Linked DNA regions of Homo sapiens: region 2 is linked to region 1. Evidence: fine-mapped expression QTL. A gene starts in region 1. The other region holds a variant in brackets. All regions are shown on one strand. Distances are between the middles of the regions.

Region 1 (16,534 bases):
TACATGTATGTAAGTGTTATCAGTTGTTGCAGTCAAGATGTCTAAATTAACCTCTGCCCTGGACGATGACCTAAGGGTACGGAGAAACAGAGAAGACTCTCGGCGTCAAGGACCAAAGAGGGAGGGTGAGAGGAAATATGTGGGATCCCCTACCCCCGTATCTTTTCCCAGAAGCCAATCTGGAATGGATGTGTATTTGTAGGGGGCGGTGATAAGATAAACTGGGGCGCTCGAATACCTGAGTGCCATCCAGACTGCATTTGGAGATCTAAGCCGCCAAAGGCTGGGAGGTGGGGAGGAGGACAAAGGAGGGGGTGGGATTGCGAAACCATCGCCCTTATCCTTCTCTGCGTCGTAAGCGCCAGGAACCCAGCCCCTAAGGGAGCCTTCCCTGACTGCAGCGCCTGACGCCTGGGTTTGAGCCCCTACGTGGACTTTTTTTTTTCTTTTTCCCGGGCTGCGCGTACCAGGGCGTGGGTGGGAGCGATAGTGCATCACCGGGGGAGCATTCGCCACTCGCTCAGAGCCCTAAAAGACTCCTCTGAGGCGGAGTTGGCTGTCGTGCTGGCAAGTGCGCAGTCCCAGAGAGGAGTGTTTCGGGATTAGGGTGTCCGCCGAGGTCCCGCGCTCAGAGGAGGGAGAGACCAGAGGAGCCTTCTCGCTTCCCAGCCCTTGCTCAATTGGAAGGCTTCAAACGTCTAGGGGGAGGCGAGAAGCGCTCCTAAAGTCCAAAAACCCTAGCTTTAGAGCGCGCTTTCATGCAGGAGGCAGGGGCACCGCAAACCCCAGCGAGGAGTAGGAGAAAAGGAAATTTATCTGGAAGGGGATGAGGGAGAGAACTGGCTGTTGCTTTGCCGCGCCTCTCTCTTCGGGACCGAGGGATCAGTTTTCTGTTAAAAGTTTCAGAGTTCCAGGCAGAAGGTACCGCCTTCTCCATCTTCTAGGTCCTCCTGGACTTAAGGTTCACAAGTTGTGTAACCTCAGGCAAGTTATTTTATCTCTCTGAGCCTGGATTTTCTTAACTGTAAAGCGAAGATGCTGAAAGCACCTACCTTCAAGAGGTGGGAGTGAGAGCCTAAATGGGATGATGTATGCCAAGGGCTTGGCCCAGCCCCAGCACTTAGAGAGTGGACAACCCATGTCATGATTATGCCAAGCAAGGATGACCGATTCTACCGCAAAGTTGGGATTTGCAACCGAGTCATGGAGCCCGGTTTTCTCCAGAGACTCATTCTGAAGGTCCACCGGCTGTAGATGGGTACTGAATGCCGTTCACTGGCTTGCTCCGAAGACTCACAGGGTCCCCGTTCCATAGCCTACATCTGTCCCCCCCAAAGAAAACAATGACCCAGCCCTGCCACCATTCACACGTACTTAATCCCCCCACTAGGAGCCCCGCAGCCCAGACCGCTCGAATTCACATCCCCAGGCTACCATTTTCAGCTGGGTGCTTTGAGCCAGGGTCTTCGCCTCTCTAAGCATCACTTTACTCTTCTGTAAAATGGGATTATAACAGTTTAGGGTGCTTTTTCTTTTAAAAGATTATACAAGTAAAGCAGAGCAAAGTCAGCTGCTGCTTTTCTTATTCTCCTCTTTTGTGAATTTGCAGATAAACTCTGTTCTTGAAAAGTCAGCCCTAAGTGGTGGAAAAATGATCCTAGCTGCTCTTTGTTGCCCCTTGGATACGCCTTTACTATGGCTCCTTGATATTCTGTGGGGGGAGGGAGTTCCAGGGACCGTCCCGGCCCCTACCGAGTGATTAAGCAGCCCAGGCCGGCTTGGCCTTCGGGGCCTCCTCCGGACTTCCCTCGACAGCCGCTCTCTGCGGTAGATCTTGCTCTGCACTTGCTCTGTCCCCTTAATTTGCAGATGCCGCCACTGAGGCCCGCAGGGACCCACAGCGAGTGGATCCAGATGGCCTCTTTTTCTGGACATCCAGTTAAGGGTGCCTTCTCCTGGAGCGAGAACCCTGCGGGAGGCTTCCGACTACTCACTTAACTCCTTCGTGGTCAGGCGTTTAACCAAGTAGGTGGAGAACAAAAGCTGAGCTAAATACCCTATTTTCTTTCTTTGACAAGTAATCGGCCGGAACGGCAAAATCCCAGCGGGTGGCGGGAGATACTGGAGGCCTTGGGAAAAACAGAATGCTAATGGCCGCCTGGAGGGGGCGGAAGGCACAGCCTGGTTAGGGCGCCCCAGCCGCCTCGCTTTGAAGTGCACCTCTCCAGCCGAGCTCACCGGGAGGGCACTTGATTTCCCCTTTCGGGGAAATAAAGAAGAGCTGCTAGAGTAACTGGGGACTCTCTTTGGTTCTGACTGACTCCCTCCTGCTTCCTACCCCTGGTTCACGTTGCTTTTGACCTGTTTGCTCCTGGCCTCCCCCATCGGACTGGGAATCCCCGGGAGGAAAAAGACTAAGGTTTATTCATCCTCATTTAGCTCCAGTATCTTAGTAAGAACGGTAAAAAGTAAGCTCAGTCTAAGTGTAATGGCGAGTAGTAGGAAAGACTTCCTATGTAGGTGCCAGGTACTGTTCTAATTGCTTCATATTAATTATGCTGTTATACAAGTGGGGAAATTGAGGCACACAGAAGTTAAAGAGCTTTCCCAGACTCACAAAGATAGTAAAGGTTACAGCCACAAATACATACAATTCTGATACAAGGTTCTGTTTTCTCTTAGAAGTCTGGAAAGGGAGACCTTTAAGGAATGACTGCGACGGTTTTCTATCCTGTTGTCTGTCCTTCCTTTCTCCTTCCCTCTCACTGTTTCTTACTTGGTTATGTTATGGGCTTACTTATTTCTGCCCCCAACCCAAACTTCCTCTCCCTACTTTTCTCACATAGGGTCTGGATTGGGGAATTCCAGCTACCCCTGTCATATTGAAGCCTTGGTCAACAGGATTTGGGTTCTGCCCACCTGTTGTGTAGACATCTTGCTGCACCTGTATCATAGGTGTGCCTTCTGTTGAAACATTAATTTTCATAGACTCTGTCAACTCTGTTAGTAAAGTACAATTGATTTACATTCAGATTAACATTTCTCCTTGGTGACATGGTGTTTGCTTCCCTTAGCAGCTGTACTACAATTCCAGCACTAACTTCTTTTTTTCTATTTTGCTATGGAAGAAGCTTAGCATGGACATACAGACAAAGGCCATGCCACAATGTAAGAACCTTGAGATAGAAAAGGTCTTAAAAATGATATATTTTAAAGTCTGAAAAAGATGAAAATATCATGTCTTTTAATTTAGAAAGATCTTTGTTTTCTTTTTCTCTTAGGAAAAAACTTTAGTCCTTGTGGTTATAAAGCCTAAGACCTGACACTGTCCCTGACCTCTGTTAGCTGTTCCAGCACACAGGTTTAGTAAATCTTTTCATTTAATTGATAAGCACCTACTGTGCTCCAGGCTTTTCAGGGTAGAAAAATGAGCAAGATAGATGGAGCCCCGTATAACTTTCGTATATAGTGTAGCAACAATTAGCCAAACGTTCCCAAAATACACTTTCTTGAGAGTGTTTTACTTTCTTTGCCTAATGTGGCTTTTCTTGTTATTATATATTCCCATATACATGATGAGGAAGAAGAAAAAGATGATGATAATGATGATGATAAAACAGCAGCTAAATACAGAAATTCATTAGCAGTTTAAAAATTACTTTCATAAAAAAGGTAAGTCATGATTTTGTGCTGTTGCCAAAGACTCTTGATTCAATCTTTAGGAGAAGATAATTTATCTTTTGTAATAAGCAACTATTAGTGTGTTTATTTATTAACTTCCATTTCAGGATTCCTTCACCTCCTCATATTTTAACAGTGAACCACAAAGTGCATTAGCAATGTAGATATATAGACTTAAAGCAAAGATAATAGTTTAAATTGGTCATTTTTGTTGAAAAAAATACCATGGGTTTAATATAACACTTCACGTCACACATGTGTAGCTCTGGTTTGGGGTTTTTTTGTTTTGTTTTGTTTTTGTTTTTTTGTAAAGCAAGTGGTCAGTGTATTTCAGTGTCATGGTGAAATATAAATTCTAAAAATTCTTATAAAAGTGAAACTTTTGGTGGGAGTATCTTGCTCTTGTCAGCAGAATCAACACTGCTTGTCTTTGCCAAGATGTTTTATCTTACGGGACATTTGCTTAAAAAAAAATGAAACATGAACAACCTAACGGTGATTAAAGCTCCCTCCCTCTTTGGAAAGCACAGCAGAGGTGGCAGATCTGGCCATCAGAGAACAAAGGGCCAAAGAGTGAACCTGAGTTGGTGAAATAAAATGTAACATCAACAAAGAAAGGGCCATAGATAAATAGTAAAAGGACCAACTCACCACAAAAAACCCATTGACGCTTTCCCAGAGTCCAGGCGAAGCGCTGGTGACCGGTTAATGTTGGAATGTTTTCCTAGGGTTAAAAGGAGAACCGGCAGCAAGTCTGCTCAGAATTTACAAAGTGTTTGAATAACATGGACAGTGTTTTGATAACACGTTTTTAGTGGGGGTGAAAATAATAGTATTTATTGGGACATTTATATGGGCCCCCTTGGTTGTGGGGGGTGGGTGGCACATGGGGAGAGGTAAACCTTATATCATTGCACTCATCTATAACTCACCTCTGTAACATACCCATATGTGTGTAAATGTATTTCTTATATAATAATCCTGTTCCAACCAAATGCTTCTCAGTTTTGCTTTTAAAAGATCAATGCATGGCTAGTGGTTACCTTTAAGGGGGAGAAAGAGATAAAGAGGTCATCTGGTCAAGTTGGCAATAACTTTGACCAAGACAGTGGTATGAAGTTGGTATTATTCCTCAGAACAATAGAGCGTGAGATCTTTAATGTGTTCACACACAGACTTGGCCTTGGCTTCCTGGTAGCCTTTAAAGATTCCTGCTTGCTCCATCTCAGGCTGAAAGGTACAAGATTTGAGTTAATCCAGCAGGTATTTGGGTCTGGGGTTTCAAGGGGTTTCCATGTTTCCTCCCCAGTGTTGATGTTTTTGTTCAATGTATTCCAATACACTGTCAGTTGAGCCACATAAAACCAGGCACCTTTCAATAAATGTCTCATTTGGATTTCATGAAGCTTGGGGTGTAATTGAAATCAAACAGCAAACAGGCTGGAAGGCTCTGTTATTTGCCCACCCAGTCTAAGGAGGGTGCTGCCTGACATGTTCACTTAAGCCACTGCTTTGGCTTTCTTTTCTATTCCTACTTCTGGAAAGGAGTGCCTGGATTTTAAAGTGTGGCTGGGACACGTGAAAATATTTTTTATGTCTCTTCCCCTGGCTATAATATTGAGCCAGCAAAAGGAAAGCCCATTTCAAGCAGGAAATCACAGACTTGCTCATCTATAACTCTCCAGGCATTCTAGACTAGTATATTCTAAATGTAATAATAATAATAATAATGTGATTAGCTAATTAACACAGAGGAACCATTAAATGAGATTTTTTATCTTCAGCCAGAAAAAAAAAGATCTGTAGCTGAAACAGTGCTTTTCATTATTTTAAAGAGAATTTGTAACATATACTTACAAATGTAATGTAATACAATATGTAATATAATATTATGTACATATTTTCCATGTTCCAAAAATCCTGGGTCCTAGAGTAGTTTTATAGAAACTGAATTTTTATTCTCTTTGAATTTGTCTTTGCTCCTCCATATGTAAAATGTGTTGAAGTTTGGGAAAAATAATAGATTTACTGGGGAAGTGGGTAGATATCAACCAAAATTTCCTGTCCCCAAGAATCAATACAAATTCTAATTATATACATCGTGTGTATATTTAATAATTAGGTGGTGCTCATACTGAACTCATGCGCTTTCAAAAGCTTGCTCTGGGGCTGGAATAAAATCAACGCTTTCTGATGTGGCTCGGGGGACAGCTGGCCCGCGTTATTCGCGCCAGAGTGGGTCGGAACGATGCCTGTTGCCTGCGATGGCACTTTGCCACGCGAAGCGCTTCCCTGGCTGCGTCAAAAGCATTTTGAAGGGACGCCGAGGCCCGCTTCTTGCTTTGTTAAAGCGCAAAACTGTCATGTACCTTTGGCCACCCTAGCTCCAAATAACGTGAGATTAGGTCTCACATTAGGGAGATTTCTCATCCCTACTTTTGCCTTAGATATCTTGCAACTCAGGTAAAGGATAATGTGGAGGATCCTACGAATAGTAATCAGGACCCGCTAGCCCAGGGATAGATACGTCGTCCAAGCCGCCCAAGCTGCACGGCCTCTTTCTTTCCTTGAGCTCGCGTACCCCTCACGGGATCTTCACGTTGACAGTCATGAGGTATTCACAGAGCTATACTACTTGAACAATCAATGTTCTAGACTTCCTTGGGTCAAAATAACACTAAAGCAGGGGAGGAAGGCATGGACAATGTAGTGATCAAAACAGCCGTGCCAAACACTAACTATACTGATGACACAAAACGCAGGAAGCGCAGGGCAGAACGCGCTCAGTACCAGCTTTCTGGCGATCTGCTCCTGGCCACTCTGTCCCAGGACCTACAAGGCCACCGCCCCAGCCCACTAGTCTCAACTTGCCCCCTCCCCTGTGGCTGTGCCTTGACCCTGAAAATCTTCGCGCACTCCTGGGTTTCACCACCACACACACGCGAGCGCGCGAGCGCGCGAACACACACATCAAAAAAGAAAAAAAAAACCGTGATAAATGCCCTGGAGAGTCTAAGTGCATTAAGGACCTCGTTCTCGGAGACCCCAGACATGCCGATGTTGGTGCTGCTGTGGTTGGAAAACTGGGTTGGAAAGCTTCGCACTGTTCTACACTTGCGTGTGCGCACTCAGCAATCCTTTGGCCATCTCATCTGTTGTGGGCGAAGAGTTTCCCGTGTGATCGCGTTCGGTTGGGGAAGCAGAGTCCCGACATCTCAGCCGGAAAATGCGCTCCCGGAGCGATTACTGGCGGCGTCTGTAATTGCTTATTAACAGCGAATATTCAGGCTTCTCCTTATCCGCAACGAAACGTGCCCCCCGCTTCCGTAATAATGAAACGATAAAATATGACGGCCCCGCTCTTGAATCTATCTGAGGAAACGCAGCGAAGAAACAAGCAGCTGGAGTTTAATTCAATATCAAACTGATTATTTCACTAATTATTCTACCTTCTGTATTTGCCGCAGAGCAGAGGCGCAGGGAATCCTAACTGTGGGGCTGTTAGGGAAGCTTTGTTTCTTGGTGTCAGGCCTAACTGAAGATGGTGGTGAAGGGACGGAATCCGGGATCAGGAAAACTGAGCAGAAAGGATTTTAAATTGTGGGGAATAAAAGTGACTGTCTCCCCGAAAGCAGTTGTGTTGGCGTGAGTATGAAGTTGGTGTTAGCTCGCTTAGTTTCACTCTTGTCCTGTCCCCAGTACCCTGTCCAAGCTTCTGATTTAGAAGCTGAGAGCTTAGGTCCTCCAGGATGGCAATGTGCTCTGGCCGTCCCCGGAATCCCAAAAGCTTAGCGCGAGTTTCCTCTCTACAAACCTTTCCCACTGGGTAAAAGGATGGGAACAAACAAAAAGTGGTTCTGTGCGTTGAAGGCCAGGGAGTTTGCCTTCGACAAGAGGAAGGTGTGCTTTGAAGTTACAGCTTCCGACGAGGAAAGAGACTTCCTTGGGCCTGTCTCCAACTTGCCCCAGTTTCCCCAGCCTCCGGGACGGGCGCTTCCCTGCAAGCTATCAGCTTGAAGAGTCTTTCTCTCTCTGGCCTCTAAAATCTGCTCCAGCCATCTCATTCCTCCAGCGGAGGGCTGAGATGACTAATGCGCCAAGGGTGGACACCGCTATGGAGACCCCAAACTTTGTCCCCCTAAATTCCGGCGAAATTACAGACACCAGGATTGATTATCACAGCGGGACGCAGTCTCAAAAAAAAAAAAAAAAAAAAAAAAAAAAAAAGGAAAAGAAAGTCACAGGCGACTTGATCCAATTAGTAAATGCCTAATTGAATTAGTGTCACCTCCACCAGCCAATAGGAGGGTCTCCGGGCTGTGAGGCCGGGAAGCCCCTCCCTGGCCGCAAATATATAAAGCAGCTAGTGACAGCCCATAAGTTTCCAAGTGGTCAACTTGACCGATGCTTTGGCAATTGAAAAAGGGCAGAAAGGCGCGGGCTAGTGGGTGGATGGGGACAAAGATCTAAGTCACCTTCTTCCAGCGTGTGAGCCTGGGAGGAGGGTGGGGGTCCTGAGGAGCAAGAGGTACGAGGAAGGAAAAGGAGAGGGCTTCTGGGTTAGTTTCCACCTCCTGCTTTCCAACTCACGGCGCTTTCCTTCCGGAAAGGACGCTGGATTCAGGGCGCGCCAGTACGCGCAGTAGCGGCCCGCGAGTCGGCAGGTGGGTAGCCCCGGCGCGGGAGGAAGGGGAAGTTACCTTCCCCTCGGAAGAGGGCGCTGGCTCCCCCATCCTGCCTTTATAATAAGGCCACCGGAGGAGAGGAAGCAGCCAGCTGCCGTCTGCGCTTTGCAAAGCATGCAGTTAGGGGAGCAGCTCTTGGTGAGCTCAGTGAACCTGCCTGGCGCGCACTTCTACCCGCTGGAGAGTGCGCGAGGCGGCAGCGGCGGGAGCGCTGGCCACCTCCCCAGCGCGGCCCCCTCTCCTCAGAAGTTGGACTTAGACAAAGCGTCCAAGAAGTTTTCCGGCAGTCTCTCCTGCGAGGCGGTGAGCGGGGAGCCCGCAGCCGCCAGCGCAGGGGCCCCCGCGGCCATGCTTAGTGACACCGACGCCGGGGACGCATTTGCCAGCGCTGCGGCAGTGGCCAAGCCGGGGCCCCCGGACGGCCGCAAGGGCTCCCCCTGCGGGGAGGAGGAGCTGCCCTCCGCCGCTGCAGCCGCCGCCGCCGCCGCCGCCGCGGCTGCGGCCACTGCGCGCTACTCCATGGACAGCCTGAGCTCCGAGCGGTACTACCTCCAGTCCCCCGGTCCTCAGGGGTCGGAGCTGGCTGCGCCCTGCTCACTCTTCCCGTACCAGGCGGCGGCTGGGGCGCCCCACGGACCTGTGTACCCGGCTCCTAACGGGGCGCGCTACCCCTACGGCTCCATGCTGCCCCCCGGCGGCTTCCCCGCGGCTGTGTGCCCACCCGGGAGGGCGCAGTTCGGCCCAGGAGCCGGTGCGGGCAGTGGCGCGGGCGGTAGCAGCGGCGGGGGCGGCGGCCCGGGCACCTATCAGTACAGCCAGGGGGCTCCGCTCTACGGGCCGTACCCTGGAGCCGCAGCGGCGGGATCTTGCGGAGGACTGGGGGGCCTGGGGGTTCCAGGTTCTGGCTTCCGTGCCCACGTCTACCTGTGCAACCGGCCTCTGTGGCTCAAATTCCACCGCCACCAAACTGAGATGATCATTACGAAACAGGGCAGGTGAGCGCAGCGTGGAGGGGCCCCTGGGTTCGGGGATAAAGGGTGACGTGTGGTCCTGGGGAAGGTCCGGGATGAGGGAGCTGAACCCAGTTGTTCCGCGCGGTGCTTAGAGTGTTTCACCGCGCGCAATAAATCTCCGTAGACACCGCATCTCCAATGCGGTGTCCCTCTGTGTCAGTGCCCCGGCGGCTCTTGCAGGGTGCCAATGTTACGGCTGTACACCGCTTTTCCCTCCCATCATCCTCACCTGAACAGACCTGGAGGAGGCGGAAATGGAAATTAGGGCATGTCCACAAGCTGGATTCGTTAGATCCTCCTGCTCGGCGGTATGCTTGTGCATGCCTGCATGCCGGCAAGGAGCCACGGATAGGGAAGGCTCAAGAGCTGGCCACCTGAGCGCAGTAGATGGGCTCCCGCAGTTTTAGGCGCCAGGGTCTCCACGGGGCGTCTCCGGGAGGTGGGCATGAAGGCTAGAGCGCCGGCCTCGGAAGCTCGGTCGGAGTAGGTGGTTAGATCTGCCCTGGAGCCAGACCTGGCTCGGGTTCGGTGCGCGAGAAAGTTCTGATATACATCCAACTGCTAACACTGGCTACTTCTGGGGAAAGGGAGGGGTGGGTGCTGAGAGAGGGGCACTCAAAGGGGACTTTTAGCCTAAAGTTTTAATATATATTTTTAACAAGAATAACCTAATATTGTTCTCTGGTACTTTTCAAAATGGTGCATTTAAAAATTAGTAGTTTTTAACATTCTAGGAGAAAAATTTTAAGAGCGTCTGAAAGGGCCGAGAATATGAGCCTTCGGAAGCACGCGCGAATTTGGAATATACCGATGTTGGGGCAAGCTTTTTTTTTTTTTTTTTTTTTTTTTTTTTTTTTTTTTTTTGAAAAGACGGAAAGGTTCCAAGAGTTGCCAACTCAAAAATATTTTACATAGTTTCAGACCACTTGATCTACCAGCATTCTGTTCACTGCAAACTTTTAAATGTGTTCCGACCCTATCCCAGGTGTCTGGGGAACCCGCTGGGGCCTGGGCCTGTTCTAGGACATCCCAATTAAAATCGATTTTTCTGATTCTATTCCCTTGCACAGGCGCATGTTTCCTTTCTTGAGCTTCAACATAAACGGACTCAATCCCACTGCCCACTACAATGTGTTCGTAGAGGTGGTGCTGGCGGACCCCAACCACTGGCGCTTCCAGGGGGGCAAATGGGTGACCTGTGGCAAAGCCGACAATAACATGCAGGGTGAGCAGAGAAGAGGCTCGGGCCGGGGAGGAACGGGCGGGAAGAAATCGTAACCCTCGACTCACACAACTCACATTTAAATGTAGCACTTTTTTTTTCCCCTTCCATTCTGAGGCCTAGAGGTGTTAGTATGAGTGTCTTTGAGTTGCTTGTTTGACGGAGAGGAGAGTTTGCTAAGTCAGATTTCTTGTCTGCCAATATGTAGATATTTAGAACCTTTAACTAAGACATCACCCCACCCCCCAATCCCTACGTTTAACAAATCAGTAGTCATAAGCTCTCCAGGTGGGAAGGGCTCCTGGGATTCTAATGTTCACTTGAGAAAGCCCAGCCAAAGTTTAGTTCACCCATAAATATCCAACTGTCTTCCATCGGATGTTGCCCTTACAGCTTTAGAAGGCCCCAAATTGACCTTCAAGAGTCATCTCTTGTTAGCTCCGTTTCTAAATTCTGAAATGCCATTCAGGGGAGTCCCTAGTGCAAGGAAGGTTGGAAGCACAGGGGCCTGGGAGGGATATGGATGTAGTCCTGCTGGTCTCCACTGGCCTCTTTAAGCAACTTTTACTGGGAGACCAACTGTAAGTCTAGCTCTTATATCTTGCTCATAGCTAAGAGACATCCCTCCGCTTTCTCCATTTGTAAACAGCCCTATATGCTTGGGTTTTGTGTTTTGTTTCATTTTCTCTTAGGCAACAAAATGTATGTTCACCCAGAGTCTCCTAATACTGGTTCCCACTGGATGAGACAGGAGATTTCATTCGGGAAATTAAAACTCACCAATAACAAAGGCGCAAATAACAACAACACCCAGGTAGAGTGACAGAGCAGGAGGGGATATCTTCTGGCTTTGACTATAAGGCTTTTTTCTAATAAGAGTCCCTACTCTTTTCACTGTATTTATAATATTTGCATTTGTGACCTGTTTGCTCGCCTATTTCTAACCATTTTTGTTCTTTTGACCTTTCTCATCTTCACTTTCTTATTGGATTTCGATAACAGTGAGTTGACTATTAAGAACAGAAATAGCGAAGTATTTTGGGAATTTAGGAAACCAAGAGGAAAGCATATCTATCACAACCACATACCCAGCTATGATTTAAATTTCAAAAAAAAAGGGGGGGGGCAATAATGAGACCTTTAAACTTGCAATAAACAAAGCTGTTAGTGAGGAGCATTTAGAAGTCCAATACCAAAATACATAATTTGTCAAAATCTAATTTTGTTGAACCACTAAGAGGCTTTTTAGATTTAGCAATTTTTTTCTGTACTCTTTCCAGATGATAGTCTTACAATCCTTACACAAATACCAACCCCGACTGCATATTGTTGAAGTTACAGAGGATGGCGTGGAGGACTTGAATGAGCCCTCAAAGACCCAGACTTTTACCTTCTCAGAAACGCAATTCATTGCAGTGACTGCCTACCAAAACACCGATGTGAGTGTCCCAGACATCTCAAGAATCTCTAAAGCTAAGGTCCAGCATGATAAATCACTCAATGACTGTTTTTCTCCCCTATCTAGATTACTCAACTAAAGATTGATCATAACCCCTTTGCAAAAGGCTTCAGAGACAACTATGATTCGTAAGTGCAGCTTTTATCCACACTTGCCTGATCATCTCTGAGCAGGACATACATCAACAGGCACTTTGCTGATAATGTATTTTAGGAAGAGCTTTTACCTTTGGGATTTTTACATATTTTTCTTTTTCCAAAATTTTTTCCTTTACTAATCTTGCTTTAGATTTTTCTCAGAAAGGTTGTGTTAATTTCTGAAGAAATGTTAAGGACTTAAAAATGAAGAGGTTTTTTTAGCATTTGAGTGAAGATTTGAAATTTTAAGAATCTGCATTTATATATACCTTTCTTTTCATTTGATCCATTTTTTTATCCTCCCAAGAGCAGATATTATTACTCTCCCCCACCCCCACTTTTTTTTTTAACATAAGAAAAAACTGAAACTAAGAGGATGTAATTTCACAACACGAAATAGCAAGGCCCTGCTCTTTTTAAAATCTGAGTTTTCTACCGCCACAGCCAGTGTTTTTTCCATCACATTGACAAAGGAGGTTTGATCTGAGTTTTTCGTGTTCTAGGACTAGTAAAGGTAGATTTTCTATAGTTTAAATACTTGATGCCTAGGAGGAAACTTTTTCTTGCATGGTGGGAAATTTTTCCCAATAAGCCAAGAGTCCAGCTAAAATGGGCCAGTGCATCTCCTGCCTCTGTTCTTTCAGCCCAACAGACCAGCACTTTCGGTGTAGATAACCAACACAAGCCTTTTTCATTTCTGGGAGGTGGTTTGTTTGGGGACAACATTAGGGTTTTTTTTTTTTTTTAAGTGTTTCTCTTTATATTGTAGCATGTACACCGCTTCAGAAAATGACAGGTTAACTCCATCTCCCACGGATTCTCCTAGATCCCATCAGATTGTCCCTGGAGGTCGGTACGGCGTTCAATCCTTCTTCCCGGAGCCCTTTGTCAACACTTTACCTCAAGCCCGCTATTATAATGGCGAGAGAACCGTGCCACAGACCAACGGCCTCCTTTCACCCCAACAGAGCGAAGAGGTGGCCAACCCTCCCCAGCGGTGGCTTGTCACGCCTGTCCAGCAACCTGGGACCAACAAACTAGACATCAGTTCCTATGAATCTGAATATACTTCTAGCACATTGCTCCCATATGGCATTAAATCCTTGCCCCTTCAGACATCCCATGCCCTGGGGTATTACCCAGACCCAACCTTTCCTGCAATGGCAGGGTGGGGAGGTCGAGGTTCTTACCAGAGGAAGATGGCAGCTGGACTACCATGGACCTCCAGAACAAGCCCCACTGTGTTCTCTGAAGATCAGCTCTCCAAGGAGAAAGTGAAAGAGGAAATTGGCTCTTCTTGGATAGAGACACCCCCTTCCATCAAATCTCTAGATTCCAATGATTCAGGAGTATACACCAGTGCTTGTAAGCGAAGGCGGCTGTCTCCTAGCAACTCCAGTAATGAAAATTCACCCTCCATAAAGTGTGAGGACATTAATGCTGAAGAGTATAGTAAAGACACCTCAAAAGGCATGGGAGGGTATTATGCTTTTTACACAACTCCCTAAAGAGTTATTTTAACCTCAAAAATTAGCTAACTTTTTGCAGATGGACTTGGTGGTGTTTTTTGTTGTCTTCTTTGCCTAGGTTGCCAAAAAGATGTTTGCCTTCCACCTTGATGCATCCTGTTTTGTGCAATTCTCTAAAAGAAGGTGCCAAAGCTTTTTGATTGCTGCAGGTAACTGAAACAAACCTAGCATTTTTAAAAAATAAGATTAATGGAAGACTTTAAGGTATTTTAAAATTCGAAGGGTATCCAAGGTTCTGTATTTATTTATTGGGGAGACACTAACCCTTCAAAGAAGCAGGCTGTGAACATTGGGTGCCCAGTGCTATCAGATGAGTTAAAACCTTTGATTCTCATTTCTATTTGTAAATTCTTAAGCAAATAGAAGCCGAGTGTTAAGGTGTTTTGCTTCTGAAAGAGGGCTGTGCCTTCCGTTTCAGAAGGAGACATTTTGCTGTTACATTCTGCCAGGGGCAAAAGATACTAGGCCCAGGAGTCAAGAAAAGCTTTTGTGAAAGTGATAGTTTCACCTGACTTTGATTCCTTAACCCCCGGCTTTTGGAACAAGCCATGTTTGCCCTAGTCCAGGATTGCCTCACTTGAGACTTGCTAGGCCTCTGCTGTGTGCTGGGGTGGCCAGTGGGACTCAGGAGAGAGCAAGCTAAGGAGTCACCAAAAAAAAAAAAAAAAAAAAGGGAGAATTTAAAAGTGTACAGTTGTGTGTTTAGATACACTATAGAATAATGTGGTATATATTGTACAAATAGTCTACATAGGTGTCTGGGATAATGTAAAACTGGTGCTTTGGCTTTGTAAAGAATTTGCAAATCACTTAACAGCTGCAGGGGCAAGGGGAGAGTTTCATCATCCCCATGATATTTGGGAATATTCTGTTTACTTCTTAGATAGTTAAGAATGTATTCAGCTACTATGTACTAACTTGAACCGTGTTTAAGGAAAACTCCTATTTCATCCTCTTCTTGCGCCATCCCCTCTCCCTAACTTGGTAATGTGAAGAAACTAAAACCTGATACCACAGCTCCTATAGGCATTTTAGAGATCTTGGATTTTTATGTACAGTCTTAGTCATTTTTAATAAATGTGGTTCAGTAAGGGAACGGACATAGCTCTGTCTTCTGTGCTGTTGGGGTTTTCATCTTTGCTTTAAAGATCTCATTTTGCTTCCTCCTGTATCGTTTTCAGCTTTAACAGTGCCTCACCCATCCCCTACCTCCACGGAAGGCTCTAGAATCTCTAACTGGATACTGTAGTCATGCGGGGGTGGGGATGTTTTGTTTATCTTCTTTTTTCCTTGAAGTGGAATGGGGCTATTTCCTTACCCCACTGGGAAGTCTGGACAATGGGTGTTGGCGGGGCGGGGGAGGGGGGCGGGGGAACGGGGGAGGGAAGATTGCTGCCGATTGCCCACATCAGACTTAACCAAGCCTCGAAAACCTCCGCTTCTGGCTCTTGGAGACCAGGCTCTGTCAGAGCGCCTGGCCACTAAGTTCTCTGGGCTTTTTTCTAGGCTTACTTGGGGCCACCCATCCTTAGGCCCACCTAGGCTCCCTGGGAACCCCCGTGGCCCTTTGAGCGCCCACCAGTTCAGGGTCCCTGGGGCGCGGCGGAGCGGGGGGCTGCACACAGCTCAGCTTCTGCGCCCACCTGCGGCTTTCTTCTGAACCCAGACGCTGCGCACCCGCCGCCGCCGGCTGCCGGCCTCAGTAGCTGCAGTCAAACTCCGCCCGGACTCGGTCTGAGGCGCAGGCTAGGGACGGGCGTGGCACTTACAAAGGAGGATTCCAGTCGTTCCGTGCACTGCCGCTCTGCAAACAGTGACCTTGGAGCAGTTCACCTTGCGCTTAGTTCCGTTTATTTGGCCCACGCTCCACGGGAAGACGAAGGACAGCCCATCCCCTGGCTGAACCCTGGGAGGTCCAAAGAGTGGGGTGGAGGGTCCCCTTTGTCCCCCCAGCCAGACGTCCCGCCAGGCTTATCTGCAGACGGCTTCAGGCCCAGATTGCAAACCTTTCCAGCCCCCTCCTGGACCCTCCCGGGGTAAAGGTCTAGCTGGGAGGATCATTCTGCTAACTGTGTAGCGCGGAAATGCAGCTGCTAAGAGGATTAGCTGCTGGGAGGCGAGCAATCAGCCGAGACCTCCTCCCCTTCTGCGCCCAATTAAGGCCGCCAGGACCTTGTACCTCGACTGTCCTGTCTCCCTTCCCCTCCGTCCCTCTGGGGCCCGAGTTCTTCCCGCGCCACCCGTGACCTTGGGGGCTCGAACTCCTGCTCCGCGTTTCCGAACGGCCTACTCAAAACACTTTGGCAAAGGCGCCCCGAACTTTACCGGGGAGCCAAGGACAAAAGCGTTGAAGATGTGCTTTTTAAGATATATGTACTGTGGATGACTGATTTAGATTCCGGAAGGGAGACTCATAGCCCCCCTATCCTGGTCAGCGCCTTCCCCACACCCCCAACAGCCCCCTTACATCTGCATCCAACCACCGAATATTGGGAGATGCGATGGAATTTCGAAAACAGTGCTCTCCTATTTCTGCCCTCTAGAAAGCCCCAAAGTGCTAATCACTGCCGGGATATAGCAGATTCTGGCCCTAGTCTATTTCGGGTCCTGTATGTTTTTGCATCGTACAGTAAAAAAGAACCTGGTACTTGTGAAAAGTCCCTCACAGTGTTTAATAGAAACGTAAGTGGCTGAGTGGCCCCAATTAACACCTTATGATAAGGCATTCCTAAGATGGAGTGTCAGACACCAAATTGTGAAGAGATGTATCTAATTAATCCTCCTAGGATGACACCGATAAACAAGCCT
Region 2 (16,534 bases), 520 kb before region 1:
ATACAGTCTTCATAACAGTTCTCTCAGGTAAGTATTTTGATTTCATTTTGCAGATAAAGAAGTGGAGGCTCACAGAGGTGAAATGACCCAAGCTTCTAATAAAGTGCCAATGCCAAGATCATGTAACCCAGGCTCTAAACCTTCAATGACACCACCATGCACATGGAGTGGGGGCCTTAGGAGACTTAAGCAAACAAGGCTAAATGAGCTTCCACAGTTATGCTGAAGCAGGGAAACAACCTTTAGACAGTAAGTTTGTGTTTCAGAAGCACCATTTGAACCAGCAAAATTTGAAAATTCAGTTCTCAATTTTTTATCAGAAAGTAAAATCAAAGGGAATTCTGATTCTGCTTCCTACCACGGGAAAAAAATATTTTTAAAAGCAAGGGGAGCAATTTGTCAGCTGGCTGAAAAACACATTCAAAGAGAATAAACATCAAATATTAGGTCAGCCACTAACAATCTAATTTTGTATAAGCTCAAACGCTTACAAAATACGGAAAGTACATCAGTGAGGTAGATGTGCCTATTTCTGCTTAGCTTCTGGGTCAAGTAACACCCATATCCCACAATAGTATGCTTCATCTGAGCTTCTCTGTCCTATCAGCTTTCACTGTTAATTAACCACCTTGTTCACACTAGATGTGCCCATTTCCCAATAGCACCTATTTCTTGGACCTCAGATTCTGCAGATTGCTAGGTGTGAAAAGTTCCTCTTCCACCCACACTGCTTTAACCAAGAGGAGGCCAGAAAGGGACAACATATTTAAAAGTATACCAAAGCAGGAAATTAACTTATGCAATAAGACATGCCAATTTTAGAACTGTGTTACAACCGCCATTGTGGCCATAATTTCTTAAATGAACAAGTTTCACATTTACTTTATTTGGTAAAACTTCAAGACTGTCTTTGCGCCTACAAGCACAATTTCCCACTGATATCCGGCAGAAAATCAGCAGTGTTATGGGACAGGAGCAGACATTTGAGAAAGTAATAAATGACAGCATACCTGTGGCCTTCTTAGCAATACATTGCCTGATTTACTTTTTTTCCTCATATAAATCTAGAAGATTGTGTAATATTCTCAATCCTATGAATGTTCCTCAAGCCTCTCTCCACCATGTTACTACTGGTTCTTCTTTTATCTTACAATATTTCATAGAATTCCTATAAAGAAAATATAATACTTTGATAATGGAATAGGAGAATTATTTTTATATTGAAGGGTTTTTCACTTATTTCAAAGACTCAGCCTTTGCTCAAATCACATCATCTTTCTTGGTATGGCTTCAGAGCTAATCTGAAGTAAACATGAAAACCAGTTCCATAATATAACTTTTTTGGGGTGGGAGCAATATGGTTTGGATATGGTTTGTCCCCACCAAATCTCATGTTGAAATCTGATCCCCAGTGTGGCAGTGTAAGGAGGTGGTCCCTAATGGGATGTGTTTGGGACACGAGGGCAGATGTCTCATGAACAGCTTTGTGCCCTTCTAGCAGTAATGAATTCCTGCTCTTGCTGGAGTGGACTAGTTCTTCAGAGTGGGCTGGTTCTCAGAGAAAATGACTAGTTCCCAAGAGACTGGATTGTTGTAAAAGTCAGGACACCTCTCACGTTTGGTCCCTCTTCACACATGCCCGCTTCCCCTTTGATCTTCTCTGCCATGTTCTGACACAGCATAAATGTTCTCATCAGAAGCCAAGCAGATGCCATGCTTCCTGTATAGCTTGCAGAACTGTGAGCTAAATACACTTCTTTCTTTATAAATTACTCATCCTAAGGTATTCATTTATAGCAACATAAAACAAACTGAGACAAGGGAAGAGGCAGCATTTCCCAGGATGATCGTCTATCACCTTCACCAGACTGTCTCTGGTTAAACCTTGGCTGAAATTCAAATTAACTTTCAGAACAAAGATTTGCCAAAATGAGGATATTAAGACGAGTGTACTGAAGAATCCAAAGGGAAATCTTAAAGGAGTTTCAAAAATATCCTGAACAATGGTAACAATACTAGAACTATACACACTTCCAAGGTAATATCTGTACTTAATCCTCCTGGGGCAATCCCACAAGGTTCCACCTTTAAAGATAGTGTTTATGATACTGAGTTCTCAGTGCTCATCTCCATCTCCAACTTTCCACATTTTCAACTATCTACTGGTGGTTTCTAAGTCCCACCAGCAGCTCAATTCCAACTTAAATTTCCTACAATGTAAACCTTCATTTTGCCAACCTAGTGGTTATGTTACCCTTCTTACCTGAAAAATCGGCTTATAGTTATATAGTACACAGAAGCAACACGATAAATATTTACAGAAAGAAGAAAAGGGTGGTGGATGGAACTGGTTTACAAACATCATCTCATTTAGAAGCAGATACAAAGAAATTAAGACTCAGAAAGCTCAAAGCAATCTTGCAGCATTACCCGGCAAGTAACAGGTAAAGCCAAACTCTAGTTCAATCTCAGTCTTTATTTTCCATCTTCAACCTCTTATTTTTTGTTATCAAAGTTTACTTATTTAAAACTCAATTCAACATTTCTCCATCCCAAAGTTCTTCCTGACCTCCAGCACTAAAAAGTGATTTCTCCTTCCTCTAACCCCAAGATTTTGCCTGCACTCGTTCTGTTGCTATAATCACACCTGGACTTAAACACATCACATCACACTATATATCCAATCTTCTCCTGCTAGATCAGTGGTTGGCATGAGTTGAATTGTGTTTACCATTCTCCAAATTCATATGTTGAATCCCTAACCCTCAATGTGACTGTATGTGGAGACAGTGCTTTTGGGAGGTAATTAAGGTCAAATGCGGTCATAAAGGTGAGGCCTTAATTCGATAGGATTAGTGGCCTCATAAGAAGCAGAGGGCTCTCTCTCCTTCTCGTTCTCTCCTCCTCCTCCCTCAACCTCCTCTTCCCCCATCCCTCCCCGCTCACTGCCATGTAAACACACAGGGAGAAGGCAGCCATCTGCAAGTCAGGAAGAGAGTCCTTGTCAGCAACCAGATCTCCTTGAATCTTGGTCTTGAACTTCCTAGCCTCCAGAATAGTAAAAAAAATTAATGTACATTTTTTAAGCCACCCAGTCTATGTTGTGTGGGTCACTCAAGTCAGTCTATGGGATTTTGTTATGGCAGCCTGAGTAGACTAAGACAGATTTTGGTACCAGAAGCTCTCAACCCTGGCTGTACCCAAGAACCACCTGAGAGGGCTGTACAAAATTCTTAATGCTTGGGCCCCACCCCAGACCAGTTAAATCAGAAATGCTGGGGTAAAAGCCAGGCATTGATATTTTTTAAGGCTCCCCAAATAATTATAATATGCAGCTAGACTGAGAACTACTGCAAGTAAAAGTTAACTTTAATGAGGTCAGAGACCACGTCTAACTCATCTTTGTAATTCCCTCTAACTCCTAGCATATGGTAAATATGCAATAAAATTGTTTTAACTGTTTAACAAATGACACGTATATTTAAAAGAGTTTTAGTATTTGATAGTTACAGATACACTGTAAACAAATACGTATGTACCTATTATGTACCAATCACCACACCAGGGATTGTGTATACAATAATGAATCAGTCAAGCAAGGTTCCTTACTCTGCAGCATAAACATGTGATACTCTACATTCCAATTAGTCATGTTTAGGTAATTAACATATCTTTTGATCTGTAAGAATCTCCCAGTAACAGTTCTTTAGCAAAACACAATGCAGGATGGTAAACACCACATTCTTAGCAATTTTTTCCTTCAATCTTCTTACTTAAAAATGCAAAAATAGGCTGGGCGCAGTGGCTCACGCCTGTAATCCCAGCACTTTGGGAGGCTGAGGCAGGCAGATCACAAGGTCAGGAGATCGAGACCATCCTGGCTAACACAGTGAAACCCCATCTCTACTAAAAATACAAAAAAATTAGCCGGACATGGTGGTGGGCGCCTGTAGTCCCAGCTACTTAGGAGACTGAGGCAGAAGAATGGCACAAACCCAGGAAGCGGAGCTTGCAGTGAGCTGAGATCACGCCACTGCACTCCAGCCTGGGCAACAGAGCGAGACTCTGTCTCAAAAAAAAAGAAAAAATGCAAAAATAGAACAGAGGATTGTCGGGGAGAATGTTAACTTGGGTATCAATAGTTTTATTTGGGCACAATTTTGTTTGGTCCACTTATATCAAGTACAAGGTAATACTTCTCATATTTTTGACATCTACAGAATTTTACACATATGATTTTAACACCCCAAACAAAAAATTAAAAAAGATACTAATCCAGGCAACAAGACACAAACTTGAATTTATTTCTGTGTGGAGTCAAGAACCCCTTGAGACCTATGACAAGTATTAATATTTAGAATCATAAAAGTTCAAGGCTTGAAGCAACCTTAGCAATTATCTGATACATCTCTTTCCCTACTTCTCATCCTCAAACCTCATATTATGTCATTAAGGACAGGTTAATGACAAAGTCTGAGACAATAAGTCAGTCTTACTAACTCCCAAATTCGGTGTTGATTCCACAACAGTACACTACCTCCCTGGGAGGAGGTGGCCAATCTTCTATAATCTAGGTGAAATTAACTGACCTATCCTTTTATCTGGTCTCTAATGAATTTAAAGAGGTGGATTCATATGAAAAATATTTACTATTTATTACACAGGTAGAACATTCCCATTCTTCAAATTATGTTTTTCTTTATTTCTCCAATTATTTGTTACATATAGGCGCATCATATCTGAATAAAAGGTTTCCTTTTATTCGTCAAAGAAAAGGATTTTATATCTAAAAGGAAAACAACTCTATACATAGGTTATATGATATTTTGGTGGAGTTTTTAATCCTAAACCTTAAAAAAAAATGTTTAACTGGAGGTGGTGGCAATCAGGAAAACTCTCCTAAGAAACTGATTTTAAATTGAGTTGTGAAAAATGAACAAGAATTCAGTAGACCTGGGGATAGGGAAGATGGGAGAAATTCTAGAGAGAACAGCATGTACGATGGCCTAGAAGACAAAAAAAAAAGTACAGCTTAGCCTACCTTAGGTATATCTTAAGCCAGTGTTATTCAAACTTGTTAACCACAACCTGTGACACTTTACTGGATGCAGTACACACACCTGTGTGTATGTATACATGTGTGCAAGTACCCATTCCTATCTGACCTGTCACTATCTGAACTCTCACTACTATCAAAACTCTTACTATCCAACTAAGATTCCTAACAGATTCAGATAAATTATTTTTAGGATAGAGCTGGTATCCCTCCTGCAGCAGAGAATGTTGGAGCATTCACATCTGCAACCTTCTCAGGACTGCCCCTGGCCATGGTAGCCCTTTGCTGTTTTCCTTGCTGCTGTCCCTCTCCCAACTACTACAGTAACCAATGACTGAAAAAGGGCATGAAAGCCCAGCTCCCTTGCCTCCAAGGCACAATAAACTGTATGTACCATGTGGTACACCAGAGCTGATTAGGTTAAGACCTGAAACCACATCCTTGCTCAGATTTTTCCCCTCCCGTCTCCTATTTTCCTTACTCTCTTAAGGGTTTTTTTTTTCTTTTCCTAAAGGCAATCTATTAATAAACCACCCAAATTACATGCAGTTCTAGTGACCAGCTCTTACTCTCTAATACTGTGCCCAAATAAAAGGAACCAGGGCTTCTCAGAGAAATAACTAATTGTATGGATTGGCCAGGGTAGGTACAAGATGAAGCAGTGATACCTTGTGTGAGGGAATAAAAAGGAAATGCTCAAAAAAATGGTGAGAGTATATGACAAAGATCCAGAAGCTAGCTTAAAGGGAACTCTGGCCAAATCTGGGGAAATTTGAACACAAAAAATACTTATGTACATTAACAGAGTACAAACGATTGAAAATACAGCAGTTCATGAGTCCTTACCAAAAATACCAATAATAAATTCATAAATCAATGAAAATGAAACAAAGCAATCTCTTGCTTACAGTAAAATGTCAACAACCATCTAGTAAATGTGAAGGGAGTGTGCTGGAGGTAGAAAATCATTATTTTGCAACCATTATGGGAAAGACTGAATCAGGTAAAAAAAAAAAAAAAAAAAATCAATGGACCCCAAATCAAAGAGAAATATTTGATGAGAAGCAAATATTTACAAGGTCTTAACCTTCCCACAGATTAGTTACTAATTGCAAAACAGAGAAAATACGGCAACAAAACAGGGCAAAACCTTGAGTGGGTAATCAAAATTAACATCACCTACGAGAGACAGATACCCATGTACCTCCAGATGGGATACTCTGGAAAGACACATCATGTATGCAGTATGTGGCTGAGATCAAGGTTATTCTTGATCTAAACAAAAGTCAGATCAACACAAAATAAGGAGAGTTCTGTTTGTCACTCCGTTACCTAAAAACTTGCAGTGTCTTCCCATTGTTCTTAGTATAAAATTCAAAATCCTTGAAATGGTTTACAGATCATTTCATGCTTCAAAACTGAAATCCCAACCCCCAACCCACTGCCATGGCACATACTCCTCTTTGATCTCAATTCTTCTTTCTTATTGTCTTTGCTTAAGCCTGTGTTTTTCAAATTTCACAGAGCAACCATCAGAGAGTTGTTAATCCGATGAGACAAAAATAATGTATTTTCTATGGCAAATATGCTTTTAATTTATAAATATACAAAATGTAGATGTTAGGTCTTTTTTTTTTTGTTCTGAGCCACCAACGTAATTTATGTCTAAGAAGATACTCTAGAGATATGGCGGCAATAATAAAATCAAAATTTTTCTTATAGGCCAGGCAGGGTGGCTTATGCCTATAATCCCAGCACTTTGGGAGGCCGAGGTGGGCAGATTACTTGAGCCCAGGAGTTCAAGTGCTCCTGAGCAAGGAGTTCAAGTGCAGCCTAAGCGACATGGTGAAACCCCATCACTAAAAAAAATAAAAAATTTTTCTAATCAACTCCACAACCTTTTACATATTAAACATACAATGCTCAAAAAAGATTCTTCAAGTTTGTTTACATGTCTAACTTAAAATTTTCTAGTAAATGTAAGGGCTAGTACTGTTCCTGTACCCCTAAAGGTAATTTACCTACATTCCCACAGGAACCACTGAAAGAACCCCAACTTGGAGTACTGCAACCCAAATGTTCCAAGAACATCCATAATTAAATCTTCCCAAGACACATATACCTTAAACACCTTCTCATGGAATGTCATGAAATTCTTGAACCCACTTTCCACCCCCTAAGCCCTATCTCTGTCCCATCTTCCTCCTTTTATTAAGTTCCCGGAAAAAAACAGCAATAGAAGGACACAGGGACACACACACACCTGATTAAGGAAACTTCCCTTAGGCTGCCATGCCCCATTCTGCATAAGTAGAGAATGAATCTATGTTGACAGAGGGAAGAGAACCTAACTAAAAAGGGGAAAGGTCAAAGAAGGGAGAAAGGAATTACTTTAGTTGATAGAGAAAGTGAAAAATCAAATTTATCAGGTGCAGGTTCCTATGGGCCATCATCTGAGAATATAATCATGTCTGAAAATTTGTCCGGAACATGGCAATAAGCAAAGATTGCTGTTATTACTGCTACATTAACAAAAAAAAGGAAAATAATGTAAATAAAACTATGTATAAGCATGTAACCTGCATTTTTTCGCTGGGTTCACAGTTTCTTGAGGAAAACAGAGACCCTACAAAGTTAATTAAAAGTTGCTGCCAAATGAAAATCAAGCTTCTATAAAGATCACAGAAAATACAAAATAAACCAATAGGAAAACAGATTTTGCTAAATGAACCTCAATTGGTGTATCTATTATTCACTTACTCAATATGGGCAAATACCATCGTGGGCTGTACAAAGCAGTAAAACATCAAAATGTGAAACTAAGCTTCAACGTATGAACCAAATAAACACGAAATTAAAAAAAAAAAAAAACTGGCTTCCATACATTTTATTCTGGAATTTAAACAGACAAAACAATTTAGGGAAAAAAAAAAAAACCTTCCTACTTGCTGACTCCACTTTTTTACTCTCCATTGCTTCCATTCCTTCCTTTGATGAAGTTTCCAATAATCACATTGTTAGATTTGACCATGACCTTCCACCCAGCTGCTGACGTACAAAAACTGGAATTATCCCTATTTCCTCTTTTTTTTTTTTTTGAGACGAAGTCTCACTCTGTGGCCCAAGCTGGAGTGCAGTGGCGCAACCTCGGCTCACTGCAACCGCTGCCTTCCAGGCTCAAATTCTCATTCCTCAGCCTCCTGAGTAGCTGGGACTACAGGCGTGTGCCACCATGCCTGGCTAAATTTTTTGTATTTTAGTAGAGATGGATTTTCACCATGTTGCCCAGGGTGGTCTCAAACTCCTGAGCTCATGCGATCTGCCTGCCTCGGCCTCCCAAAGCACTGGGATTAAGGGCATGAGCCACGGTGCCCACTGTTTCCTCCCTTTCTCTCACCATCCTTATTCAATGCAACCACAGGTCCTGTCAATTTCTCCTCATGACGCTGTATATTTCTTTCCATCTGTCTATTACCATCTTGGGCTAAGATACAAACATATTTGGCCTGGACTACTGCTCCTATCCCTTAACCTGTCTCCCTTCTTCCACTTATGACCTGACCCCTCTACAATGCATGCTACCACTGTAGCGAGGATAATAAACACATAAATTATGTTACTGCCCTCTTTAAAAGATTCTAAAGGCATTTGATGCCATTAGAAAAAATCCAAATGCTTTATTATCACAGCCAGCCTTTGAGGACTTGCAGCCTCTGCAATATCTAGGCATTTAGTGACTACCTACTTTCCCAATATCTTTCCTTATGGATCCCCTCCACACTCTGACCCACGTTCAAGTTAAATATTTTAAGTATTTGCTACCTGATGGCCAAGCACACTCTGCCTAGCTTCCTCTCATCCCTCAGATTCCAATTCAAATGACACTTCCTCATAAAGCTCTTCACTGACTAATCTCTTCACCATCTACCACATGACATTATTTTCTTCATGTTTATCACAATCTGTAAAAATGTGTGTGTGTATGTGTGTGTGCCCACGCACGTGTCTGTGTAGGGGGAAAAGGGGGTGTTAATTGTTTTTTCTACCACTAGATAAGCTTTATTGGGAGCAGGAATTTTGTTTGTCCTATGTACTACTGTTCCCTAGGGTCCAGAACAATATGGGACATATACCAGACACTCAACAAGTCTTTGTTTAATCAATACTCAAAAGGTGGCATGGTCTACAGCACTGGACTGGAAATGAAATTACCTAGGTTCTAACCAGACTTGACTCTACCAGCAACTAGCTGTGTGGCCTTGGGTACAACACAAGATTGGAGTGGCTTATGAGTAACTGGAAGGTAAGCAAGTGAAGAGAGCAAGTATGAAGACTTTTTTCCCAAATTTCCTTGTCTAAATTCAAAAAGTGTAGATATATGGAAATCTTTAACCTCTCTCATTCTCAGTCTCCTCATCCGTATGAGATTACTTTAAAGGTCACTTCAAGTTCAGAAGTACCATAATTAGGCTGGGTGCGGTGGCTCACACCTGTAATCCCAGCACTTTGGGAGGCCAAGTCAGGCAGATCACTTGAGGTCAGGAGTTCCAGACCAGCATGGCGAACACGGCGAAACCTCATCTCTACTAAAAATACAAAAATTAGCCGGCCGTGGTGGCGGGCGCCCGTAATCCCAGCTACTCAGGAGGCTGCGGTGGGAGAATTGCTTGAACCCAGTAGGCGGAGGCTACA[G/C]TGAGCCGAGATAGCGCCACTGCACTCCAGCCTGGGCGACAGTGAGACTCCGTTTCAGTAAAATAAAAAAAAAAGATACCATAAATTATATGGGCCTAAACTTGAACCTTCCTTACTCACCCCTCACTTATACTCTACCCCTTCTACCCTCAAGAACCAAATCATGGTAGTCATCCTGAAACCAAGCATCGCACAGTGCACCTTACTATCTAAACCTTTGCTCATAGGGCTGCCTCTTCTCCAGCTCCAACCACTGGAAATTCCATCCCTCAAAGCCCAGATCAACTGCTAACTGCTTCATAACCACCTAGTCCAAAATGAATATGATCATTATGTTCCAGAACTCCTCTATGCTTCAAATTAGAGTACTCCCTGATCTACCACTACCTGCTGGACTAGTCACTTAACTTCTCTTCGCCTCAGTTTCCTAATCTGTAAAATGGAGCTAAAAGGACCTACCATACCACATATTATTGTTGGATAATAGAGAACACTTAGCATGGTAATAACATGTTCAATTAAAACATTATTTCTGTGCTACATATATTTTCCATGCTCCTTGAAGGCTCCGAAAGAGCATTTTCCATTTCTGAATCTCCCAAGTTTGACGCCATTTACCTCTCAATGTTTTGACTTTTTGTATCCATAAAATGAAAGAAATGGACTAGACCAACTACCATTCCCTCCAAAAATGTTATCTATTCCCTTGCAAAAATAGCCTAACGCAAAGATACTGCAGGTGACCTTCCACAAGGACGGGAATTCGAGGGTAAGTTAACTATTGCTGCAAACGGAAGTGGCTGGAAGCAAAGAGATTAAAACAACATTCAAGATTTTGAAGATCCTTTCCAAAGAAACTGACTCCTGCCATAGTGATGGATCCTTTGAAATATGTTTTTAAGTTGGGTTACAAGGATGAACTCGGGGTCCATGAACTCCCAAACAGAAATGTAAAACTGTGCGCCAGAACAAATATACAAATTTTTCTGGGGCCAGAGTGTCTGCAGCATACATTAAATGCATCTGTGACCTTAAGGGGCGAAAAGAGGGTGACAATGAAGAGACTAGTCGCGTTAAGTTGGAAACCACAATGGATGATACTTTAGACAACAAACGCAACCTCAGATAACCATAATCCCCAACAAGTGAGAAGATGACCTCAGACCGGGCGAAGCAGCCGCCGGGTATGAGGAGACGCTGGTGGAAGCAATGCTACCCAGAGCTCTGCACCTTTCCCAGGTCGGCATCCAGCCCGCATGGCCCGCGGCGTGAGACCCGGGGCGAGGCCCCTCGGCAAACCCCGCTTCCCGCCCCGGTACCTGCGGGGTCGAGCGCCATCTCGGCGGGCCGAGAAGAACGTAGCCGCTTGGCGGCTCCGGGGCACGCAGGAAGGGGAGTGGAGGGGAGGGGCTTGGGCTCGGACGCACGTGCGACCCCCGGGAGCTTCCCGCAACAGAAACACGGGCCCTTTGCAAAGCACCGCCAGGACCCGTTCCCTCTTCCTTCCCAGGCTCCTACTTCCGCCGCCCGTTGCGCCTGCGCCTTTCTGGCCCCGCCCCAATCCTGTAACTAGAGTGGAACTGACTTCGCAGGGGGAATGACCAGGAAAGGGGGCGTGTCTGCGTGCCTTTGGGGCGGGACCGTGCAGGACGCGCGCAGCCTCGCTTCAGGAGGCTTGTGCACCAGTTGCAGACCCGGGTCGGCCGTGACTGGAGGCGGACCTGCAGGACTTTGGGACTGTGCCTCACTCGGTGACTGGGCCAAAGTCCGAGCCCCGTCCCCCATACCCGCCTTCGGAGAACCAAATGAATCATCCAGTTCCTTTTTTTTTCTTCGTTAACGTTCATTCATTCATAAATGTCTATTTCATGCCTGCCAAGTTCCAGCCACGGTTCTGAATACGAGGGGAAAATAACAATAAAAATAACGTCCCTGTTCTCAAGGAGCAGTGTGGCAGAGGAGACAAATAAAAGCAACACGCTGTTAAATGTGATAAACGCCACACGCACTAGTTGTTCACAGCTTGTTCTACCATAAAGGTGATATGGTGTGTGCAATATCGTTATTTCTCCTTCAAATCAAAGACTGTGGCTCTCCTAGACGTTAAAATATGGGCTCTAGAAGTACCTCTATGTTGTGAAATAATATCCTCAGGACGTACAGTATGATTTGGGTGATGTTACAAATCCTGCCTCTATCAGTAAAAGCTGTATGTTTTGTGAGAGTAAAATGAAGGAAGGTAATAGCCGTCCCGCTGAAGACCCACTACTCACCTCTTCTCAATAGAAGAAACTTTCTAGGTGGCACTTAGGTTCATTTCCACTCACAAACCAGCCTTCAGAAGTGCTTCCTTGTCAAATTCACGTTTAACTGGCTCGAGCCACGAAAGGGTGAGCTGAGGCCTGGGACAGATGGGACAGATGTTTAGAAAAACAAGGAGCAGCTGCTTCTTCCCTGCAAGGGATTCAGGGCTTTCAAAATGATCCCCTCCCCACCTACCTGCAGTCCCTCCTCCCCTGCTGCTGCTTCCGCCTGGTCAGTTGGCAGAAAAGCTGAGGCAGTTGAGCAGGGCTGGGAAAGTGGGTCTCTGCTCAGCAGGTCTTCCGTTTAAGGGCCTATTTGGGCATAACGGCCCTTATTACAGCTGTAGGTTGAGGTGCCAAGGTGAAGAATTAACGTTTCACTCACCCAGCCAGGGAATCAGGTCCTTTTCCTTGTATATTTTGTAAATATGCTTAGAAATACACCAAAATGACTCTGGTATGCCTCTTTTATTGTTCTGAAGGTGAAGGATTTGATTTAGAAAGCTAAAGCAATCTTTTTGAGGAGATGGAGTATGAAAACACAGGTCAGACACCCATATTCAAGAATTAAACTAAATCTTTCTATATGCAAAAGGGTATTATGGTAAAGGAGGAAAGTTTGATCTGTTATCTTAGTGAGTTGAGTAAGTTCTATTATTTTTCTGGACTTTGGTTTCCAATTTACAAGGTTGTTCTGAGGAATAAATGTGATATCATACAATGCATTTGAAAGACTTTAAAGGACCACTTCTACCATTTCTGCCATAGCTATTACTTGAAACATTACTATTTAACATTTGTTTTTAAATCAACACATTTTTAAAAACACTTAAATAGGCACTATTTACTTTAGCCTTATCCTAAGCAACAGTATCTGTAATATCATGGGTTTTGTGTGCCCCATAGAATGAACTGCTAGACGTATCACACCAGGAGAAGCACTAGCAAAAACGGTAGCCCAATACCTGATACATAATAGTATATCTCTCTCTACTCCCATGTTAAACCAGATACTTTGGGGGGAAACTGAGTCTTTACAATCTATACCTAGGGAAGATAAGTCATTTTTTAAGTTAAGCGAATGTAATTGGCAATTAAAAACAGAAGAAATTTCCTGAGGCATCGCATTATTAATAGGCAATTCTTTGGGTAGTAACTGCAAAAGGAGCTCAAGGAAAGAGGAGAGGACATCATCCTGGAAATTAGGAACAGTGTCTTACCCAGCTGTGATCCCTAGAGCTCAGGCAACGTCTGGTAACTGGTGACCCCACAAAAGCCTTTCTCAAAGGATTGAATGCCGCAATGGTTAGGAAAGACTTCAGAGATAAGTTAGAAGTTATGCTCGGCCTTGAACGATGGGTACAATGAGTAGACAGAAAAAAGGGCATCTCATGCTGGGAGAAAAATGAGAGCAAAAGCATCTGGGATTTGAACTGTTCTTGAAAGAGCATGGTGGAGCATGGCAGAGTACAGGCTAAGGAATGGAATCACATGAACAAAAGCACAGGGGTGGGAAGCACCCAGCTGTGTGGCAGGAAGCACCACGGGGCTGTGTGGCAGGCATGTGGTGGGCAATGCTTGAAACTACTTCAATGCATTTTAGGATTTGGGAAGCTAGGGCAGTTATGCATTGGCTAGAAAAGTCCAGATTCCCACAGCCTTAAACACTAGACAGAGGTGTGTTTGAATGTGTTACTATAAGCAACCAGAATCTGTTGAAGGTTAATATATAGGAAAAGAGCATTGTGGTCAAAATTTTCTAAAGGTGTTTTATAAAAGTTTTGCGCAGGATGAATGTAGGCAGCGAGGAAAGAGCTAAAAGGCAAGCAGAAAAGTAAGGAGGCTATTGTACTGGTTTGGGCAAGATATGAAAAGAGCCTCAACTGGGATATATAAAAGGATGGATGTGAGAGTAATTGCAAAGGAAGAATCTATCCTTTGAAATTGGATTTAGAAGACTAAGACAAAGAGTCAAGATTTCTGGATAATTCCTTTTTTTGGCAAATGTATACAGACAAATGAGAAAATCATGGCAATGTGCCTATTCATGCCTGAAATGATCTGCCTTGATCCTCATTATTGGGGGCTAACAGTGGCGATAATGAAACAGAAAGATCAGTTCAGAGAAATTTGCAGTAATGCAGGGTAATAACAGTAGTTGAACCACAGTGAATTTCTCTTTGTATGTGAAGGCAAAGGAATGTGCAAGTAGAAACAAGTATCTTGATTATTTTTGAGTCAATTCTGAATTGGATCTAACATTCCTTTATGCTATATGTTGATATGCAGCTAGTTGTTTTTTGAAATTGAGATTATCAGTCAGCCCCTCCTTGCTTCTGCCTCTTCTTAGCATCAGAAGTAAAGACTTTTCATCTGCAGCTTGGCTCTGCTACAGATGAGAATAAAACTTGAAATCAATGAGATTTCAAATTTGAGTCAGTAAGAATCAAACTTGAAAGAATATTAGACGCCTCATCTCTACCAGAGGATAGGATTTAGAAGTAGTTCTCGGCCAGAAGATCACTAATCAAGGGTCCCTGGTGGCCCTGCCTACTTTCTGAGCTGTATTATTTAGCACCCAGTTTGCATGGCTTGTGCCTTCTCTGGTTTAAAAGGACTTAGGTCCATGTTGACATTTCTATTATTTGCTAGGGTGGTCATAATGAAGTGCCACAGTCTGGGTAGCTTAAACAACAGAAATATTTTCTCACAATTGCAGGTTAGAAGTCTGAGATCAAAAATGTCGGCAGAGTTGCTTTCTCCTGAGGCCTCTCTTCTTGATTTGTACATGGCATCTTCTCCTGTGTCTTCACATGGTCTTCCCTCTGTGTGGCTGTGTCTCCTAATGTCTTCTTGTAAGGACATCAGCCATATTGGATTGGGACCAACTCTAATGAATATCCTAATGGCCTCATTTTGTCTAAACTACCTCTTTTAAAACCGTATCTCCAAATGCAGTCACATTCTGAGGTGCTGGGGGCTAGGACTTCAACACAAGAATTTTGGGAGACACAGTTCAACTGATAAAAGCATTGAAATATTTTTAAAGGACTACAATTATTCCCTGAATCCCAAATCACTTCACTAGAGCCCTGAGAACCTGTCTAGTGTTAGCCTGTCACCAGAATAAAATACTTTGTCCCTGTTTTCCTGGCTGTTGAATAGGGCCTGTTTTAATCTGACTCAGTTCACCTATCCACTTCAATCAGCTCCTGACTGTCCCTTCTCTACATCTGATTGATCAAAACATGTAGTCAGTTCTCCTTCCTTAATATATCTTTATTTCATCTGCCAATCAGAGTCATAACTCCTAGTCCAAGGTCTGCCCATTTGTGCTGATATTATTGTAATAGTTCTGAACTGGCTCTCTGTTCCTAGGCATTTCTTCCTCCCACTTATTCTCTCTATTCCATGTCACCCACAACAGCAAATATGATTATAAAATTTCTTATATAAAATTCCCAGTAAGAGACAACCTATGGAATGGGAGAATATATTTGCAAATCATACAAATGATAAGGAGCTAATATCCAAAATATATAAGGAATTCAAACAACTCCATAGCAAGAAAACAAATAACCCAATATAAAAATGGGCAAAGGACATTAATAGGCATTTCTCAAAAGGAGACATATAAATGATAAGTATGTGAAAAAATGTTCAACATCATTAATCATCAGGGAAATTCAAATTAAAACCACAATGAGATATCACTTAAGATCTGTTAGAATAGCAGAAATACAGGAAGATAATAAACATTTATGACGATATAGAGAAAAGAGAACACTTACACACTGCTGGTGGGAATGTAAATTAGTACAGCCATTATGGAAAACAGTCTGGAGGCTCCCCAGAAACTTAAGAACAGAACTATCATATGATCCAGCAGTCCCACTACTGGGTATATATTCAAAGGATATGAAAGCAACATGCTGAAGAGATATCTGCACTCCCATGTTTTATTGCAGCATAATTCACAATAGCCAAGACATGGAATCATCCTAAGGGTCCATCAATAGACGAATGGATAAAGAAAACATGGTATATATACACAATGGAATACTGTTCAGCTCTAAAAAGAGAAATTCTGTCATTTGCAACAACATGGATGAACCTGAAGGACATTATGTGTCCTTCAATTTTGAAAGACTCTTGCGTGAAATAAGCTCAGCACAGAAAGAAAAATACCGCATGATCTTACTTATATGTGCAGTGTGAAAAAACCAAACTTATAGAAACAGAGAGTAAAATGGTGGTAACCAGAAGCTAGGGGTTTGGGGACCTTGGGGAAATGTTAATTAAAAAAATAGAAAATTTCCATTAGACAGGAAGGATAAGTTCAAGAGATCTACTGTACATCATGATCACTTCAGTTAGTAACAATATATTGTCTATTTGAAAACTGCTACTCTGTAATAAATTTTATGTATTCCCATTACAAAAAAAAGATAAGTATGTAGAGTAATGCATATGTTAAATAACT

What was found. PIP is the estimated chance that this variant, and not a neighbour inherited with it, causes the effect. A credible set is the group of variants that fine-mapping cannot tell apart.
Region 2: its variant is the best candidate, but not a certain one, in a credible set for the expression of EOMES in whole blood (INTERVAL, PIP 0.89).

Annotation. Positions count from the first base shown.
Region 1 is chr3:27,714,241-27,730,774 of GRCh38, reverse strand. It overlaps EOMES (eomesodermin), which reads left to right and starts at 8,452. Exons shown (of 6, transcript NM_001278182.2): 1 at 8,452-9,361; 2 at 10,450-10,604; 3 at 11,294-11,415; 4 at 11,882-12,040; 5 at 12,127-12,188; 6 at 12,967-14,822. The coding sequence starts at 8,481. The coding sequence ends at 13,705. LINC02084 (long intergenic non-protein coding RNA 2084) reads right to left here. Exons shown (of 2, transcript XR_007095851.1): 2 at 16,375-16,534. RefSeq lists enhancers at 1-689, 690-1,619, 1,620-2,551, 5,397-6,271, 15,790-16,534 and a silencer at 8,817-9,026.
Region 2 is chr3:28,236,346-28,252,879 of GRCh38, reverse strand. CMC1 (C-X9-C motif containing 1) reads right to left here and starts at 11,261. Exons shown (of 4, transcript NM_182523.2): 1 at 11,068-11,261. The coding sequence starts at 11,086. RefSeq lists a silencer at 10,969-11,048. The variant G/C (reference allele first, on the strand shown) is at 9,749.